Homo sapiens: one gene and its partners. The protein of the gene in region 1 purifies or fractionates together with the protein of each later gene. This does not show direct contact. Each region holds a gene or a part of one and is shown in the gene's direction. Other genes may lie near its edges. The genes, in order: BTN3A2, SLC39A11 and PEX13.

Region 1 (7,310 bases):
TGCTCCACCACCTATACCTGTCCCTCATGATCTGTTTCCTCTGATTTCAACAAGCAGGTGTTCTTTCTCCTGTCTCAGGCTAATTCTGCACCCACATCGGGGAGCCCCCACCCCAGCTTCCCTCAGGCTTCTCTATTTGGTCAATTCATTAATTCATTCATTTGACAAGGATCCATGAACGCTAACTATGTGCCAGTCACTATTCTAGGTGGTGGAGTCACAGAAGTGAACAAAACAGAAAGTTCTCATTCAAAAACAACATAACTTGTGGTAGGAGGCAGACAGGAAATGAAATAATTAGTAATATATATGGTGTGCTGGATGATGATAAGTGCTCAGGAGAGAAATAAACCTGGAATAGCAGAACTTGCATTTCTTTTTGAAGGGGTCTTGCTCTGTTGTTCAGGCTAGAGTACATTGGAGTGATCATAGCTCACTGCAGCCTAATTTTTTTTTTTTTTGAAAGACAGAGATCTTGCTATGCATACTGCCCAGGTTCTTGAACTCCTGGCCTCATGCAATTCTCCTCCCTCGATCTTTCAAGGTCCTGTGATTACACCTGTAAGCCCTCGTTCCCGGTTGGAAGTTACAGTTTAAAATAGGGTGGTTATGAGCAAGGGGAGCGAGGCACAGAATACTTGGGAGAAAAGCATTCCGAGTTGAGAGAACAGCAGTGCCAGAGCACAGAGGCAGAAGCACTGTGGTTTGTGTGAAGAAAAGCAATGAGGCTGGGGTGCGCAGAGCACACAGGGTGATCAGGAGAAGAGGAGGTGACAAGGCCAGAGGGGGTTGAGGGCCAGATCATGTATGGCCTTGAAAGTCATCATGCTGACCTGGGCTTTACCTCTGAGAGGGGAGCCACTGGAAGGTTAGAGCAGAAAAAGGACTGGACTGACTTATGTTTTAAGAAGTTACTTCACATGCTAGACCAAGATGGGCTGTGGGTAGGGGTGGTGGATGGAGGCCTGAAGACCCAGCTGGGAGCTACTGCAGTGATCCAGGGGAAAGATGCAGATGACTTGTACCAGGGAGGAGCCATGAAAATGTTATGATGCTGGATTTATTTTCAAGATAGAATAAAAAGGCTTTGCTGATAAACTTACAGGTGGGGTGTGAAAAAGGAGGGCATCAAGGGTGACCACAAGGTTTTGGTCCTAAGAAACGGTACAGATGGAGTTGCCACTTACTGAGATGGGGAAAATGAGGGAGAAACCGCTTGTGGAGGCCAGAGGAGGAGCCAGCACAGAATCCAAAGGTCAGTTTTGAATATGTTGGGTTTGAGGAGCTTACTAGAGATTCCCGTGGAGATGTAGAGTAGGCAGGTCAATAATAAGCTTGCAGTCCAGGCAACGGGTCAGGGCTGGAAACACAAGTTATTCTCTTTGTCTTCTTTATATTCATGTTTGTTGCCACTGTGTGTTTCACTTACCTAATGCATTCGTGATTTATTGCTGCATAACAAATTACCACAAACTTAGTGGTTTAAAACAGTACACTTTTCCAGCCTGGGCAACATGATGAAACCCCATCTCTACTGAAAACGCAAAAAATAAAAGATAAAAAATTAGCCCAGCGTGGTGGCACACACCTATAATCCCCGCTACTTGGTAGGCTGAGGCACAAGAATTGCTAGAACCCAGGAAGTGGAGGTTGCAGTGAGCCAAGATTGTGCCACTGCACTCCAGCCTGGGCAACACAGCGAGACTCTGCCTCAAAAATAAATAAATAAATAACAGTACACTTTTATCACTTCAGTTTCTGTGGGTCAGAAGTCCAGGCAGAGCTTAGTGGGCTTCTCTGCTCAGAACTTCACAAAGCAAAAGTATTATTCATGCATGTAAACCTCTAAGCACAATACCAACATCACGGTAGGTTCTATGTGAGTATAAGCTATTATTAAGAATAATAATCAATCCTCTTCCCTCTCCTCCATCCCTAAGGCCTCATCATTTCTTGCCTGGAGTGTCACAGTAGCTTTCTTCCTGGTCTCCTTGTCTTCTACCATCTGATTCTCTAATGAGGACTGGCTATATTGTGTAATCATAGCGTCATCATTCCACAGAATACAATGTAAATGGCACTCTTACTTCCCATCTTCCCTGGCACCTTTCACACTATTGTTTCCAATGTACACATTTTCTCATGCCATTTTTAAAAAAGATTTTCTCTTCACCTTCAAACTAAAACTCCAACTCCACAACAGGCACCAGCTGATACCGAACCTTTCATAATGGAAAATAATGACATTCATAAAGAGTTAATATGTGCAGGTGCTGTGCTAGGTTCTCCCCAAACAACTTAAGAAGCAGGTCACATCCCTACCCATAGCTGAAGAAACAAAGACATTGAGTGAGAAATGAACTTAGGGGTCTCATAGTTTGGAAACTACAAAGTTCAGAGATATGAAGAGTTGGGCTCAGAAACTCCTAATCTGAAGCTTAGCACATTGGCTGCTTCTTTGTGTCAAAGTGACTTGGACCCTCCAGGCAAAGGTGGGATGTTCATTCTTACTAATACGATCTCAAGCAGCACAGCTTCTGATAGAGTCTGAATTTAAAAATAAACAAATGAACAAATAAACAAATATTGATGGATGAATAGGGGTGAACAGCAGGATGGATTTATAATAAAGTAAGAAACTAAAATATTAATTATACAATCTACATGGTAGATATATTGGAATTTACTGAAATTCTTTCACCTTTGCTATATGTTTTAGAAGTTTTATAATAAACTGTTGGGGAGGGGGAAGGGGGAGGGAAAAATTGTGTTTTTCTGTTGATAACAGAGACCAGAAGTACCACTGGCTTAAATAAAACAAGGATTTGTTTTCCTTTCATGAAAAACAAACTTATTTGGAAATTTACCCTGAGTACTAATATATAATAAAATATTTTAAAAGAAAAAATTTTTTAAATAAATTTAGATGGTGACAGTCCAGGGCTGATCTGGCACCTCAGATATGTCATTCATGCCCCAGCCTGCTTCTGACTTCATTCTCTGCTGTCCCAGTGTGTGGCTTCCAACCTCAAGGCTGCCTCATGGTCCCAGGGTGGGCTACTGCACCTCCGGGTCCAAAGTCCATGTTCTAGGCAAGAGGAAGAAGGAAGAAGGGAGAGTGTACCCTCACACTCCCAGCTATTTTGGCCTCCCTTTGAAGGATTTCTGGGAGAAGTACAAGCCCACAACTTTCACCTACAAACCGCTGGCTCCAACTTAGTCCCTTGGCCTGCCCTATCTTCAAGGGGGAAGAGCAGGATGCAGTACCCCAGAAAATTAGGCCTTGTCACTAAGAAGAAGGGGGCATGCACGCTGCAGAAGCAACCAGCCATCTCAAGCAGATACCACACAGCCTAAATTCAAACTGTTGCAATATAATCAAATCCCATCAGCTCCAGTCACATATTAGCTCTAGGAGATTTCTGGCTTGCAGCCCAAAAAAGTGTGTTTTGAGGTCGTAAGCCACAGGGAGAACAAGATTGTCCCATAAACTCCTTACAGAGATGGTGTACAGGAAACGAGCCTTACAGAGACCACAGCCTATGGAGTGTCTAGCTTCAGAGAATATGTACTCCACTGGCAGCGTGAGAAACAAATACCCAAGAAAATACAATATAGCACAAACCAGGAGCTGAGGGTGAATGAAGATGCTCAGAAAGATCTGCAGTAAGAATTTCCTGGGAAAGGTAAAACAATGTCAAGCAGCACTGCCTCTGGAAATCAGAAAAATTATATTATTTGATACCATATCCTAAGCCTAAATGCCAGAAGTTCTTAAAGAGGTGCAGTTTGTCTCATTTTCTTTCCATTCATACCTTTATTAGGCTCTGTAAAAAAGATCCTCCTCTTCTACGTACCTATCTACATGCAAGCAAACTGCCACAGAAGCATCTTAATTAGTGCACATCTTCCTCTCTTTGCACATTAAATTTTTTTACTTTCCTACTCCATTCTGCTAATATTTCTATTACCATGTAAAAGACACGAGACAGGTGAATATAAAGAAATACTTATATACATCCACGCACAAGAATGATTCAAATAGATAAACACAGAAACACAAACACTAAGGGAGGTAGGGCTGGAGTTTTTCCTCAACGTGTACAATTCAATGTACTTTCAGTTTTCATTTCAACGTTCCTCAGTGGTTTCTGCCCAGCAACTGATGAGAAACATCACCTCTGAGCCAATCAAAAAACTAATTCTTCCAAAGAGCGACTCTTACTGTTTCTCATGGTGAGAAGACAATATTTGCTTTCTCTTTTTCCTTTCTTCCGGATGAGAGGCTAAGCCATAATAGAAAGAATGGAGAATTATTGATTGACCGTCTTTATTCTGTGGGCTCTGATTCTCCAATGGGAATACCAAGGGGTAAGTGCAGGAAATTGATTAGAGCCTGGGCTACAACGCATGGGAGGAGCGGGGCTGAATCGCTGAGAGTGGTGAGTGGGCATGCAGGGAGAGTACTCTCCCAGAGAAAGGGGTGCAGTGCCTGTGTGTGTGTGTGTGTGTGTGTGTGTGTGTGTGTGTGTGTGTACATGTGTACATGTGCACACTCGCACATGCACATATGGGCACGTGGGAAGACGGGAGAAGTACTGCAAAGTATAAGGAACTGCAGAGGTTGGGATTTAGTGGAAGGAAAGGGAGACAACATGAATGAAGAAATATTCCAACTGCATGTTCTTAACGTATTGTGGTCAGAAAAGGGCAAACAAACAAACAAACAAAAAACCCTTAAAATCTGTTCTGGCCAACTCAAGGCATCTATTCTGAGAAATTCTGAAGAAGAAGAAGAAAAAAGAGATGTGCCTCATAGATTTATATGTAAATGTGTTTATTACAGAAGTATTTATAATATAGTAAAATCTGAACCAACATACATATTCAACAGGTGGGGAATAGACAAACAATGCATGGTTCAGTCATAAAACATGTTCCATGTAACCATTAGGAATCATAATTTTAATTAAGTGAAATTCTTTATAATTTTAATAACACTGGATCCTTATATTAAACCATTTTTGGTATCTTTTAGGGATAGTACTTGGTTTTCTTTCCATTCATCATTTCCCCAAAACCTAAAGCATGATTTCCCATGGTTACAAGCTACTACATTGTATGAATATATAATTATTGGGAGTCTCTGTGAGCCTACTCTGACTCAGAAAGCCGCTCCTAAAGAAGAAAAAAGAACAAACAAACAAATAAAAAACCCGAATTATTTTTAAAACTCTTTATTTTGGATTTTTCAGTTTCTACATTTTGTTACTGTAGATTTTACTAGATTGAACAGCCTTATCCATAAATATTTGCATCAATCTCTAAATTTTTTTCTTCAACACTAACTTTTATAGTTGGAATTTTGGGGGCAAATAATACAACATTTTAAAGGCACTTGCCATGTGTACATGGCCAAATGCTTCCAGAAACATTTCCACTTCCATTAGCAAAGTATATAACTACAGAGTATTTAAGGTTTTATTCCTTTATATTTTTTTCTTTGGCAAAATTGTCTATAGTAGAAAGAATGAATAATAAATAACCTAAAAAATAAAAGTTCTCCCTCTGAGGACAGCAGAGAAATTTTTAGCTTAGCTTAATAATACCTCCTTCTCCTTAGGAGAATAAAGAGCAGTTTCGAGGAGCAGAAGATGTGGTGAAATATAATGTTTAGTCTGATGGTGGATGCAAGATCCAGGCAGGGGTGGAGCATGACCAGCTGCACAGACCTCTGTTCCCTTGCTTCCTCTACATCTCTCCCCACCTCCATCTGCAGACCTTGTTCTCAGAGGCCATTCCCAGACCCACAGCAGCTGGTATGATGGCTGCAGGCCTCATGCTCCTTTGTTTTGGGAGAAACTGTTGAGGAGTTAGTATTTACTGAGCAGCTAATATGTTCCAGTCACTATTATTCCTCATAATAATTAGTTATTAACTAATACATGAAAATTTTAAACTTAAAGCATTCCAATAATTTTAAAAGTAAAGGAAGCAAAAGGCCAAAGCGTCCTTTCACTCACTTAACCTCCAATTTTCAGTTTAGCATCCATCATTTTAGACTTTTTCAGGCATTTACATATATAGTTATGCAGAAATGTATAGCTTTGCTTTTGTTTTTCAATTGAATCATTAGTATAGTTCTGCAAGGTGCTTTTTAATCACTTAGTATATCTCCATTATCCAGGCTAGTGACATTAAATCACTCTTTTTAACTGCTGCATTGAATTTCCTCCTAGGGATGAGCCATCATTCCTCTAACCAGTCTCTTGTGAGTGGCTGGTTCAGTTGGTAACCACTTTTATACTTTAAAAATAGTGCTGCAGTGTCATTCCCACAGAGGCTTCTCTCTGCACCCATGCGAGTACTTCGCTGAAGTAACCATCAGGAAGTGGAATTGCTGGGCCAATTGTGAACATTCTAAGTCTCATACTCGATATTTTTGAGTAACTAAAGTTGAAATGGTTTTGTCCCATGACTGAGATCATCAAGCTTGTGACTTGTAGAGCCTTTACCTATTGTCTACCCTCTTTGTGTTCCTAACTCTACCATAGTGGGTCCAGCCCATTGTGGGTGCTCAGTAAATATTTGTTGAATAACTTTATGAAGGGAAGAAAGAAAAGATGAGTAAAGCCTGGTCTTATTCAAAGCTCTCCTAATCAATATCTTTGTGATTAAACGTGGTGGGTTCAGCCCCTGACTGACTTCAGAGCCTCTGCCAGGCAGTCTGCCTGGATCCCACCAGGAGCCACCAGGCCATAAGTTGACTGTAGTAATGGCCAAGAGTTTGACGCTTGAGGAGTCCATAGTGTTGGACACCCACAGAGCTGAACAAGGGTGGGACCAGGGAATCCAGTGAAGAGGGTCCTTCATGAATCAGAGGGGGATGATGGAAGCTTGGACCTGGCAAGGGAAGTGTGGGGAAGTGATAGGATTATGAATATTTTAATATTTTAATGCAGTAGAGTCAGAGATGTCCTGATCAGATAACAGATATTATTTTTACAGATGGTTTTCCATACTGGAACCCAAAGGTAAAGACACTCAAGGACAGACATTTTTGGCAGAGGTAAGATCTTCTTCGGTCACCATATTTGAGTTAGCCCTGGGGAAGTGGACATTTCCATGCAGAATCCTAAAGCTTCTTCCAGGCCATAGTGTCTGTCCCACACCTTCTGGTATCTCTTGATATGCAGCATAGATGAAAATGGCAAGTTCCCTGGCTTTCCTTCTGCTCAACTTTCATGTCTCCCTCCTCTTGGTCCAGCTGCTCACTCCTTGCTCAGGTAGGGAATGATTCCATGATTCCA
Region 2 (7,123 bases), on another chromosome or scaffold:
TATAGTAAGCACCCCGGTTGCAGGCTCCTGATGCATTCAGTAGTGGCCACAGGTGTCCTCGGCTCCCAGACTGTGTTGGGAATTCGAATAGCAGGGAAGGGGCTCCTGGGAGGGAGGCGGGCTTGGCCTCCATCCTCATCCTCACCTCCTCTGACACCTGCTTAGGCCAGTGGCTCTCAACGCCCTCGCACACTCTTAAAATCTGCACACAGGGGGCCCAATGCCACGGCAATAAACCGAGATCTCCAGGGCAGGGCCGAGGCATCGGCATTTGCCGGTGCTCCCTGTGACTGGCATGTGTCGTCAGGTCTGAGAGCCGTGGATTCAAATCCCACTCTGGAGCTGATGCAGGTGATTGAAGAAGAGGAGAGGGCTGGAAGGGACTGTGTCCTCCACTGGGCCACCCCCACCAGTGGGCCTCTGACCAATGCCCAACAAGCAGCGGGGCGAGGGAACTTGGATGGGCCTGTGCGTGTGCACGGGTGTGTGGAGGAGAGCCCAGTTAGGCAGTGTTGTGCATGACAGGTAGGAAAGGCAGAGAAACTGTGGTGCCAGCCCCTGCTGGGGAGCAAAGGAGCCCAGGAGTGTCAGGAGGGACTCTGACCGCCCAGCAATGCAATGCCCTGCTGAGAAAGGCCTGGCAGGATCCAGAGGGCATGGCAGCTGTTTGGGCTGGCAGCCCCGTGCCAGGGCTGGGGCAAGGCAGAGGTAACGAGGCTTGCCAGGGATGGAAGAATGGGGTTTCTGTGCTGCTTATCAGGATGGTGGCTCCCAGACAGGATGTGGAGGAGGCTCCCACAGCCCGCCGGGCGATGGCTGTAGTCAGCGCTATGTCACGGCGAGGACTTTGGATGGGGAGCCCCACCTCTGATTTGTCAGTGACATTGGGCTGGTCACTCTGCGGCTACCTTCGTGTGCCTGCCTGTGAATATGAGGTGCAGGCAATGGCAGCGGACTGAGAGCCAGCCACCAAGTGCCTGGCAAAGCCCAAGATATCAGAAGCCTTGGCCTTCCTCATTGGAAAGAAACCTTGCACTTCGGACTTTGCAAAAGGTCAAGGAAGCTGGTTGTATTCACTCAACCATTTTGAGGGCTACAAGGAGATGCTGAACAAAGTCGCAGGGAAGGGGCCCCCCTGAGGGTCTATCTGGGAAGGCGGGGCAGGGGCTTATGAAATATTGGCAAGAATTTATCCTTAAGAATTTGTCCTCAACATAAATATATTCACATGTCTCCAACTCCTGGAATAGGAGCTCAGGGTCAGCTTGCACATGAAATTGGTAGCAGAAGCTGCGAGAACAGGCCGCATTTCTGCCCAGGGCTGGTTAGAACACGCTTGTCAGCATCCTATAACTGAAGCAACGTTCAACAGTGTCTTCCAAAGCTAGCTTTCGAGTCCTAGGCCTGGGGCCCCAGAGGGAAGAAGTGAGGCCATTAACTCCGATCCTATACCCAATGCCAGAAGCGGCACCCATCACCCTCCCTGGCAGAGCAGCAGAAGAGGGGAGCCTAGGACCTTTCAAGGTGAGGAAGAGAGCTCCTGACCCTTTTGTCCTGCCCCTATAGACTGGCTAGGAAGACATGTTAGGGACCCAGAAAATAAGGAAAAGCAAGATGGCTAAGCAGGGCCACCCGCTCACTCCCCATGCCCCACCCTTCCGCACACACACGCACATTTTAAACACAAGGGACCAGAATGACACCTTTTTCCTAAACATCTGTAGCTAGATTTCCTTTTTCATCCTGTCTCATTTCTCCAAATCCTTCTCTCCTGTTGAACTAGGACAGATCAAGACTATGTGGAGGATATGTAAGCTACAGTTGACTTCCTGCCCAGGGCCTCACCTCCTAGAAGCACTTCTCAGGGAAGTGTAAAACTGTCCCCAGCTGCCCAGGACAAAATCTTCAGAGGTGACCCCCAGGGCTCAATTATCCAATGGAGCTTTCCATACTTTAAAGTGCAGCAGGCCGGGTGAGGTGACTCACACCTGTAATCCCGCACTTTGGGAGGCCGAGTCGAGCAGATTACCTGAGGTCAGGAGTTCGAGACCACCCTGGCCAACATGGTAAAACCCCATCTCTACTAAAAATACAAAAATTAGCTGGGCGTGGTGGTGGGCACTTGTAATCCCAGCTACTGGGGAGGCTGAGGCAGGAGAATCGCTTGAACCCATGAGGCGGAGGTTGCAGTGAGCTGAGATCACGCCACTGCACCACTTCAGCCTGGGTGACAGAGCGAGACTCCTTCTCAAAAAAAAAAAAAGAAAAGAAAAGAAAAGAAAAACCAAAACAAAAAAAAAGGGTGCAGTGGCTCATACCTGTAATCCCAGCACTTTTCAAGGCTGAGGCAGGTGGATCATCTGAGGTCAGGAGTTTGAGACCAGCCTGGCTAATATTCTGAAACCCTGTCTCTGCTAAAAATACAAAAAAAAAATAGGGGGGTGTGGTGGCACATGCCTGTAATCCCAGCTACTCGGGAGGCTGAAGCAGGAGAATCGCTTGAACCCCAGAGGTGAAGGCTGCAGTGAGCTGAGATCGTGCCAGTGCACTCTAGCCTGGATGACAGAGCGAGACTCCATCTCAAAAAAAAAAAAGAAAAAAAAAGCGTGCAACAGAAGAGTCAAGCCCACCAGGCTCATCAGAATGCCCCCTACTCCCTTCCAGCAGCTCTCCCCTCCTCTGTGCCCAGGGAAGCGTCCAGCCTCCAGACATTTACTGGGGCTCAGGGGGGTCTGGAGGTGATAGAAGGAATTCTTCTATATGTGCCAGCCTAGGAGAAGCAAGAATCCACATCTCCCGGGAGTTTCTGTACAACCCAAACAGACCAAGCAGTATATAGGAACACAGTATCTGAAATGCCTTCAGGTTGCACAGTGGTTCTCACCAAAATCTTACAAGTGATGTAAAAATCTCACACAAGTGTCAACAAGAGCAAATGAGTGAGTGCCGATGGAAACTCAAGCATAGATGAGCCATAAGCAAAACAGCCAAGCCAGGTCTCTTTGAAACAGAGCTTTGCAGAGGAATGAGTTTTGGCTTTAGGGTAGAAAATCTTAGTCTCTCTTGGAAAGAGGACGCATGAGTTCTTGGAAAAGCTTTAAGTCCCTGTCTCTGTTATTTCACGCTGCAACCTCAGTGATAACACTCACCCTCACCCCAGGACAGGCATTGATTACGTGCTTACTGCATACTAGCTCCCGTGTGCTAAGGGCTTGAGAGGGACCATCCCAGGTAATCATATCAGCAACGCTGTGAAGTGAGGGTGGGTATTGTTCTTCAAATTCTGCAGTTGGAGAAATGGAAAGTAGCACAGCTAACAAAGCACAGACCCAGGATTTGGACAGAAGAAGTCAGACTGCAAAGCCCAAACTTCAACTACCACATGCATGGCCATGAGAACATAAGAAGAGATAGGGTCTGCAATGCCCAGGGTCTGTGGTTTCATCTTGCCAGATCTTTCTGCAGCCACTGAGCTATCAGGGCAGGGGTCAGCAAACTGCAGCCCATGGGCCAAATCTGGCCCCCCACTCATTTGTGTAGATAAAGTTTTATTGGAACACAGCCACACTCAATGGTTTATGTACTGTCCATAGCCACTTTTGCACCTGCAATGTCAGAGTTGAGTGGTTGCAACAGAGACTCAGTGGACTGCAAAACCTCAAATATTTACTATCTGGCCCATGACAGAAAAAGTTTGCTGCCCCCTAGATCCAGGGATGAAGTTGGAGCATGTTTGAGCCCCTCTCTAAGGAGTCAAAGGAGAGCACAAACTTGGGTGATATAGACAGGGATTTGGGTAGACTCGTGGGAAATGCTGAGTGATGCAGCTTTTGTGGACATGTCCTGGGCTGGTGTGGTGGGGTGTCTTCTTGTCTGTCCACTCCACTTCATGAACAGTTCTGCCTGCAGGTTGGAGAGACAGGCTCAATGCTTCTGTCAGTCCCAAGAGACCATAATATTTCCTTTATTAAGGAACTGATCAGTTTTCGGATGCTATCACTTTTCAGATGCCCCCTGGGGAAGCTGCTTTGTCCCTCTTCACAGTTTCCCACCCCCAGCCAGTCTAGGCCCCACAGCTCCTAAGTCAGCTCAGGGCTTCTTCCCCCAACCCCACCCTAGGGGGACCATCCCTGCCACGGGGTGCTCACTATTCTCCATCACTTCTGTTACATATCCATGTCCCCTAATGCCACCTGTTTTGTTACTCCTGTCCTGTGTTGCTCCGGATCTCCTCCAGAGCTCTCCACATCAGATCTTGTATACAGTAAGCACCCTGGGCTGCAGGCTCCTGATGCATTCAGTAGTGGCCACAGGTGTCCTCGGCTCCCAGCCTGTGTTGGGAATTGGGATAGCAGGGAAGGGGCTCCTGGGAGGGGGGTGGGCTTGACTGCTTTCCTCATCCTCACCTCCCATGATGCCTGCTTAGGCCAGTGGCTCTCAACGCTGTTGCACACAGGGGCAGATTTTAAGCTGATGGGTAGATGCTGAGGGGCTCATTGTAATCTTGTCAAAAAGGGATGGGCACTAATTCTATGAACCACATGTGAGCTAAGTGGTGACAGGTATGAGATTCTGTTAGGGCTGGACTTTTCCTAAGAGTCTACTTGACTGGCAGACTCGAGGTGGGGGCTACTTCTTCCTGAGGTATCTGGAACTACGAACCTCAATGAAACATGTGCAGGAGTTGGGGGATAAAGGTAAAAAAAACAGGGTAAAGGCCAAACCCTGAAACAAAATGGAGGTCAGATGCTAAACTGGGGATTCGCCTTGGTGTTCTTTGTTAGAGGCTGGAACTTGGGCCTCAGCCGGATCAGGCCTGACAGGACCTTCAGGGCCACGAGTGTGTCCCAGTCCCGGGAGCCTGGGGCAGGTCATAGGCAGGGGTCCCAGCTACCAGTCTACAACACTCCCTTGCAGCAATGGGTAGATTCCTATTGGCAGCAAGATGGATGGACGTGAGCCAGTTGACCTGAAAGTCGGTGATGGTGGAGTTTCTCTTCTCTATCTAATCTACCCACAATTCCCTCGGGCCACACACCAGCATTGCTTGCCGAGTGGCACCCTCTTCTCACGCCCTTTAGATCATTGTTGATCAGATGGCCCTTCATGGAGGGGCTGCTTCTTGGAACTGTCCGGCCAAGGTAGAGTCTCACGTGCAAAAGGGCCTTCCTAAGGCACTCGGACTGGCCCCATTTCCCTCCTCTGCTTCCCTCATGCCTCTGTTTCCTGTGCAAGTTGACTTTTGGCTGATTTGCTGTAGTTTGCAGCATCCACAATAAGGGTTCTTCATGTACATGCCTGTGTTGTCTCCATGGCTAAATACTAAGCCCCCTGAGGCCAGGCATGTGGTCACAGATTGCATTTGTACGCATCCCATTTTGCTTCTCCCTCCTCTCACACTCCAATGCCTGGTTTGTGCAGAAAGCAGCTTCTCAAAGACAGGCATCTATCAGCACAGCCTGTCACTGTCCTGCAGAGGCAGGAGGTGAGAGGATCACTGTGAGCACCACTGGGGCCCAAAGAAATGCAGCGATGGTGCCAGACCTGCAGAGCCCACGGAGAAGCTGAGCCCAGAGCCAGATCTGTGGCACCATCAGCGTCTGCAGCTGCACTTCCTTGTCCCATTTCTGAAGTGGCCTCTGAATAAAATGTGATATACTCATTTCTGTGCTGTAACAGAATAGAAACCAAAATGCATTAAGCACCTCTCTATGCTAGGATGTGATAGGCATTATTGGGTCACTGGGTCACTCAGCAATCCTTTATGGTAGATATTGTTGTCCCTAAATTGTATACAAGAAACAGAGGTGTAGGCTGGGTGCCGTGGCTCACGCCCATAATCCCAGCACTTTGGGAGGCCAAGGCAGGCAGATCACTTGAGGTCAGGAGTTGGAGACCAGCCTGGCCAACATGGTAAAACCCCATCTCTACTAAAAATACAAAAATTAGCTGGAAATCACTTGAACCCGGGAGGTGGAGGTTGCAGTGAGCCGAGATCATGCCACTGCACTCCAGCCTGGAGTCTCCAGAGCGAGACTCCATCTCAAAAAAAAAAAAAAAGAAAAAGAAAAAAAGAAAAAGAAACAGAGGCGTAGAAAGTAAAATGAAAAGTGCAGTTATACAGCCACGTGGCAGAACTCAGGGCACCCTGAGAGCCAGCCAGTGTGTTCTGTGCTGTAGCAAAGCATTGTAAGGACAGAGCCTGCCCAGGACCCAGGACAGCATGATGGGTAGAGGGCTCACGTCACTCCCTCCTGCAGCCCCTGCTCTTTACCTAGACACACGTCCTGACCTTTCTCCTTCCTCTCCTACTGCAGGTCACAGGTCTCCTCCTGGCTTCCTAGCACCCACGGAGGTCTTGGCCTCGGCCAGGGACTCCCATTGTGTGAGCACCTATTCCAGACAGCAGCCTTCATGTGCTTTCTTGGTTTTTCAGGAATTTGGCCATTGGAATCGGGATCCAGAATTTCCCCGAGGGCCTGGCTGTCAGCCTTCCCTTGCGAGGGGCAGGCTTCTCCACCTGGAGAGCTTTCTGGTGAGTGCTGCCCAAGGGCAAGGCCATGTCACAGCATCCTCCATGTGGGCTTCTTTCAACAAAACAGTGATGTGCTTTTGCACTGCCATGCTCAGATATGACGTAGAATGGCATGCATCCATGTGCTAGGGTTGAGCCAACAGTCTGGGCACGTGGAGTGTCTGCTTGCCTCCCCCTGCGGTGGTAAATGTCTCTGTTCTCTCCTTAGGTATGGGCAGCTGAGCGGCATGGTGGAGCCCCTGGCCGGGGTCTTTGGTGCCTTTGCCGTGGTGCTGGCTGAGCCCATCCTGCCCTACGCTCTGGCCTTTGCTGCCGGTGCCATGGTCTACGTGGTCATGGACGACATCATCCCCGAAGCCCAGATCAGGTTGGAGAACCTTCCCTCCCTGTCTGTCCCTGTCCCAGTCCCAGCTGGGACCCCAGCCTTGGGATATGCTCTTTCTTCATTTGCCTTTCCTTTCCTTATTCCCTCCCCCTCTCTGCCCCTTCCCAAGATCATCCCCACTGCCTCCTCAACTGTGCTCTCTGAAACTAAAAGAAAAGAAGCTAAGGGCATGTGGGTCAAGAAATGAGGTGACACCAGGCAGT
Region 3 (3,894 bases), on another chromosome or scaffold:
TAAGGTTCCAGTTGCACCTGATTCCATTGGGAAAGATGGAGAAAAGCAAGATCTTTGATATCTTTCATGTTTGCCTGCAGTTGAACAATACTTTAGAGTACTTTTTAAAATTATTTCTCACAAAGAAATGAATGTACAATCCAATGAAAACATTTGTTATTGGCTATTTCAGGTGTTTTGCTGCTAGAAATTATTAAAGTTACACACTAGTATGTTGGTCTGGTGACCTGGTTACATTTTATTATACACATTATTGGACCATAAGGACATTTGTTTCACCTAGATTTTAAGATTATGGAGACTGCTGTCATTTTTATCTTATTTAAATCTCTAGGTTTATTGGAAGAGTAAGATTGATGAACTATAGCATGCACAGTTTGGTACAGTAGAGATCATTAATACTTTTAAAAGTTCTGCATTAATTGACTTGGAATCCTTAGAAATGGAGTGGTGACATGTCAGTATGAGAACAGGCAAAAGGTAAATTTTTTTTTTTTTTTACAACCTTAAGTAATCTCAATAATAAAATTTTCTGATCTGTATTATATCCAGTGTTGGGTTTATATTTTCACCCACAAACAACTGACACTGCTATCTTTTACTGTATTTTTAAAAATTTAATTTGAAAAGGTCACCCAGAAGCATTCTGAAGGAAATGGTTCTAGAATTATAGAGTATGTAGCCCTAATAGTTTTCCCTCCTAGCAAAAAGTCTGAAATTTATCTTTCTTACAAACTGTTCCATTTCTTCTAAGGATCCCTTAATTATTTATCTCTTTAAGCCAGGCATGGTGGCTCACGCCTGTAATCCCAGCACTTTGGGAGGCTGAGGCGGGCAGATCACCTGAGGTTGGGAGTTCAAGACCACCCTGACCAACATGGAGAAACCCCATCTTTACGAAAAATACAAAATTAGCTAGGTGTGGTGGCACATGCCTGTAATCCCAGCTACTCGGGAGGCTGAGGCAGGAGAATTGCTTGAACCCCAGGAGGCGGAGGTTACGCTGAGCCGGAGATCTCGCCATTGCACTTCAGCCTGGGCAACAAAAGCGAAACTCCATCTCAAAAAATAAAATTATTTATTTCTTTAAAATATGACTAGTTTTCATACTGGGTGAATCAGAAGTATATGAAAGGTATACTTTCTTTTCCTACAACAAATACTTGAGTTCTTTTGAGTTTGCACTTAATGATATAATCAGTTATAATAGTAATTTTTAATATTTTCATAGATTGTTTGCTTCTACCTTGTGTAATTTTTTAAATTCCATATTTAGGATGCTCTGTAAATATTGAAAATGTGTCACATTGGATACATTTTTCTTTTAGGTTTAGTTTTTACTACTGAGACTTATTTATAGTCTTAGTGCTCTATTGCCATTTAGAATATGATAATCCTCATGCCTTTAATCTCAGCACTTTGGGAGGCCAAGGCGGGCGGATCACCTGCGGTCAGGAGTTTGAGACCAGCCTGGCCAACACGGTGAAACCCTGTCTCTACTAAAAATACGAAAATTAGCTGGGTGCAGTGGCGTGCACCTGTAGTCCCAGCTACTCAGGAGGCTGAGGCAGGAGAATCACTTGAACCCGGGAGGCAGAGGTTGCAGGGAGCTGAGATCATGCCACTGCACTCCAGCCTAGGGGACAGAGCAAGACTCTGTCTCAAAACAAACAAACAAAAAATAATAATACGATAATGCTATTTGACGTGTTTTTTGGTTTATAATGATTTTAAATGCAGTTAACTTTCAGTACACTGAATATTTCCCCAGAAAATTGGAAACTTCATATACTTGGCTACGAACATACTACAGAGTAATACTATCAGGAATACAGGTGTATAAGAATACATTTATAGATATTGTTGAAAACTTTGAACTGTTTGATAAAAATTGTGATTTAGTATTTTTTCTTTTGTCTTTTTTTGAAACGGAGTCTCACTCTGTCGCCCAGGCTGGAGTCCAGTGGCGCGATCTCGGCTCACTGCAAGCTCCGCCTCCCGGGTTCACGCCATTCTCCTGCCTCAGCCTCCCGAGTAGCTGGGACTACAGGCGCCTGCCACCAGGCCCGGCTAATTTTTTTTGTATTTTTAGTAGAGACGGGGTTTCACCGTGTTACCCAGGATGGTCTCCATCTCCTGACCTCGTGATGAGCCCGCTTCGGTCTCCCAAAGTGTTGGGATTACAGGCGTGAGCCACCGCACCCAGCGATTTAGTATTTTTTTCTAATAGACTATGTTCAACAAATAAGTAATTCTCGAATAGTTCAGATTAAAACATACAGGAACCAAGTACATACCCAGCATAGAAGAACTTTACTAAAGGCTTCTTGGAAAGCCCTTTTTTGAAACGACAGTATCGTAAGTAACATATCATTTATAATAGAAATCTTGACCCAGTGCAGAAAAATAAATATAGTAAAATTTATTTATCTTTGGCCAGTTTTCCAACACCCAGGTATTAGCCTTGAAGTTGAAGAGATAAGGTTTCTTGTATATTATTTTTCATTTGTGTTCTACAATTAAAGGTTCTGCTTTGATTTGTCAGATAATTTATAGAAATTTTGTTCTCAAAACAAATGTTTGATAAAACAGATTATTAAATTTGGGGTTGAGATGTCTAAATTGAATGCTAGAAGTAAAGTAGAAGTGACCACTATTAAAGATGTATAGGGAGAAGAGTACAGCACAAAGTGATAAAATAGTGACACTTTTGTAGGGGTGTTTATTGTTTGGTTAAGTCTGCTAAATTACGGTATGCATTATCTGGTGACTATTTGTGCCTGAAAATTCGTTTTGTATTAAAATTCTGGAGAAGGAATTCAGGACTAGAATAAAGAGAAATTTTGTAACCTTTTTTATCATGACAGTTTTAGAATAATTTTTTTAGCTGAGATTAAATGTTCAAGGCTCCAATATTATTTTTAGGAACTTATTTAAGGAGTGCTACTTTACAGAAATTACTAACACACCAAAACATTATTAATTAAATAAAATATAAGTTTACAATAATAAAACATGTTTCTTTTAATTTTTCTGATTATATTTTATGAGTTCAGAAAGGAAATGGTAAAAGAACTATACATTTTCATGTTTTAACATTTTATGTACGTACTTGATTCTGTCTGTGTCATAATTACACATTTACTTGAACACAGCTATCCTTTATCTTGTGCTTTCTTTAATAGAAAAATGAACAGAAACTGAATGCAGTTAAATTTTTATTTTTAGTAGGTTGTGAAGTTACTTTTACTGGAGAAATAAAAATATGTTAAACTTGATTGACTTTTTAAGATAAATTGTTAACACTTTTGCAGGATTAGAATTAATATGAAGTATCTCTTTAACATTATTGTATATATTACCTACTGCAAACCTATCTGTTCTGTTTCTTTGTGATTTAAAGAAAAATAGGCCAGGCATTGTGGCTCACACCTATAATCCCAGCACTTTGGGAGGCCAAGGCGGGCGGATCACAAGGTCAGGAGTTCGAGACCAGCCTGACCAATATGATGAAACCCCGTCTCTACTAAAAATACAAAAATTAGCCAGGTGTGGCGGTGGGTGCCTGTAGTCCCAGCTACTTGGGAGGCTGAGGCAGGAGAATTGCTTGAACCTGGGAGGCAGAGATTGCAGTGAGCCGAGATCGCGCCACTGCACTCCAGTCTGTGCGACAGAGCGAGACTCCATCTAAAAAGAAAAAAACAAAAAAAAAAGAAAAATAATACATTTATATAGAATTACCTACAGGTGTGTTAAATAAAAACACTTCATACCTAGATTTTGGGGGATCTAGATTCTAGTTTAGACATCACTGCTTACTGTAAGATTTAAGTCCCATTATTTATTTTTCAGTTTCCTAAATTATAACAATAGGCATAGCTGCTACACCTGCCT

The links.
Region 2: the proteins of BTN3A2 (region 1) and SLC39A11 purify together in Homo sapiens (affinity purification with mass spectrometry; 2 studies listed by BioGRID and IntAct, with this or other methods). This does not show direct contact.
Region 3: the proteins of BTN3A2 (region 1) and PEX13 purify together in Homo sapiens (affinity purification with mass spectrometry; 3 studies listed by BioGRID and IntAct, with this or other methods). This does not show direct contact.

The regions. Positions count from the first base shown.
Region 1 is NC_000006.12:26,360,982-26,368,291, forward strand, and holds the start of BTN3A2 (butyrophilin subfamily 3 member A2 isoform a precursor), read left to right. Parts: upstream 1-4,216; 5' UTR 4,217-4,355; coding exon of another isoform or gene 4,356-4,371; intron 4,372-6,993; exon of another isoform or gene 6,994-7,008; 5' UTR 7,009-7,069; intron 7,070-7,196; 5' UTR 7,197-7,201; coding exon 7,202-7,286; intron 7,287-7,310. UniProt on the Homo sapiens protein: Plays a role in T-cell responses in the adaptive immune response. Inhibits the release of IFNG from activated T-cells.
Region 2 is NC_000017.11:72,648,582-72,655,704, reverse strand, and holds part of SLC39A11 (zinc transporter ZIP11), read left to right. Parts: intron 1-6,436; coding exon 6,437-6,535; intron 6,536-6,743; coding exon 6,744-6,902; intron 6,903-7,123. UniProt on the Homo sapiens protein: Zinc importer that regulates cytosolic zinc concentrations either via zinc influx from the extracellular compartment or efflux from intracellular organelles such as Golgi apparatus. May transport copper ions as well.
Region 3 is NC_000002.12:61,048,713-61,052,606, forward strand, and holds the end of PEX13 (peroxisome biogenesis factor 13), read left to right. Parts: coding exon 1-58; 3' UTR 59-3,278; downstream 3,279-3,894. UniProt on the Homo sapiens protein: Component of the PEX13-PEX14 docking complex, a translocon channel that specifically mediates the import of peroxisomal cargo proteins bound to PEX5 receptor.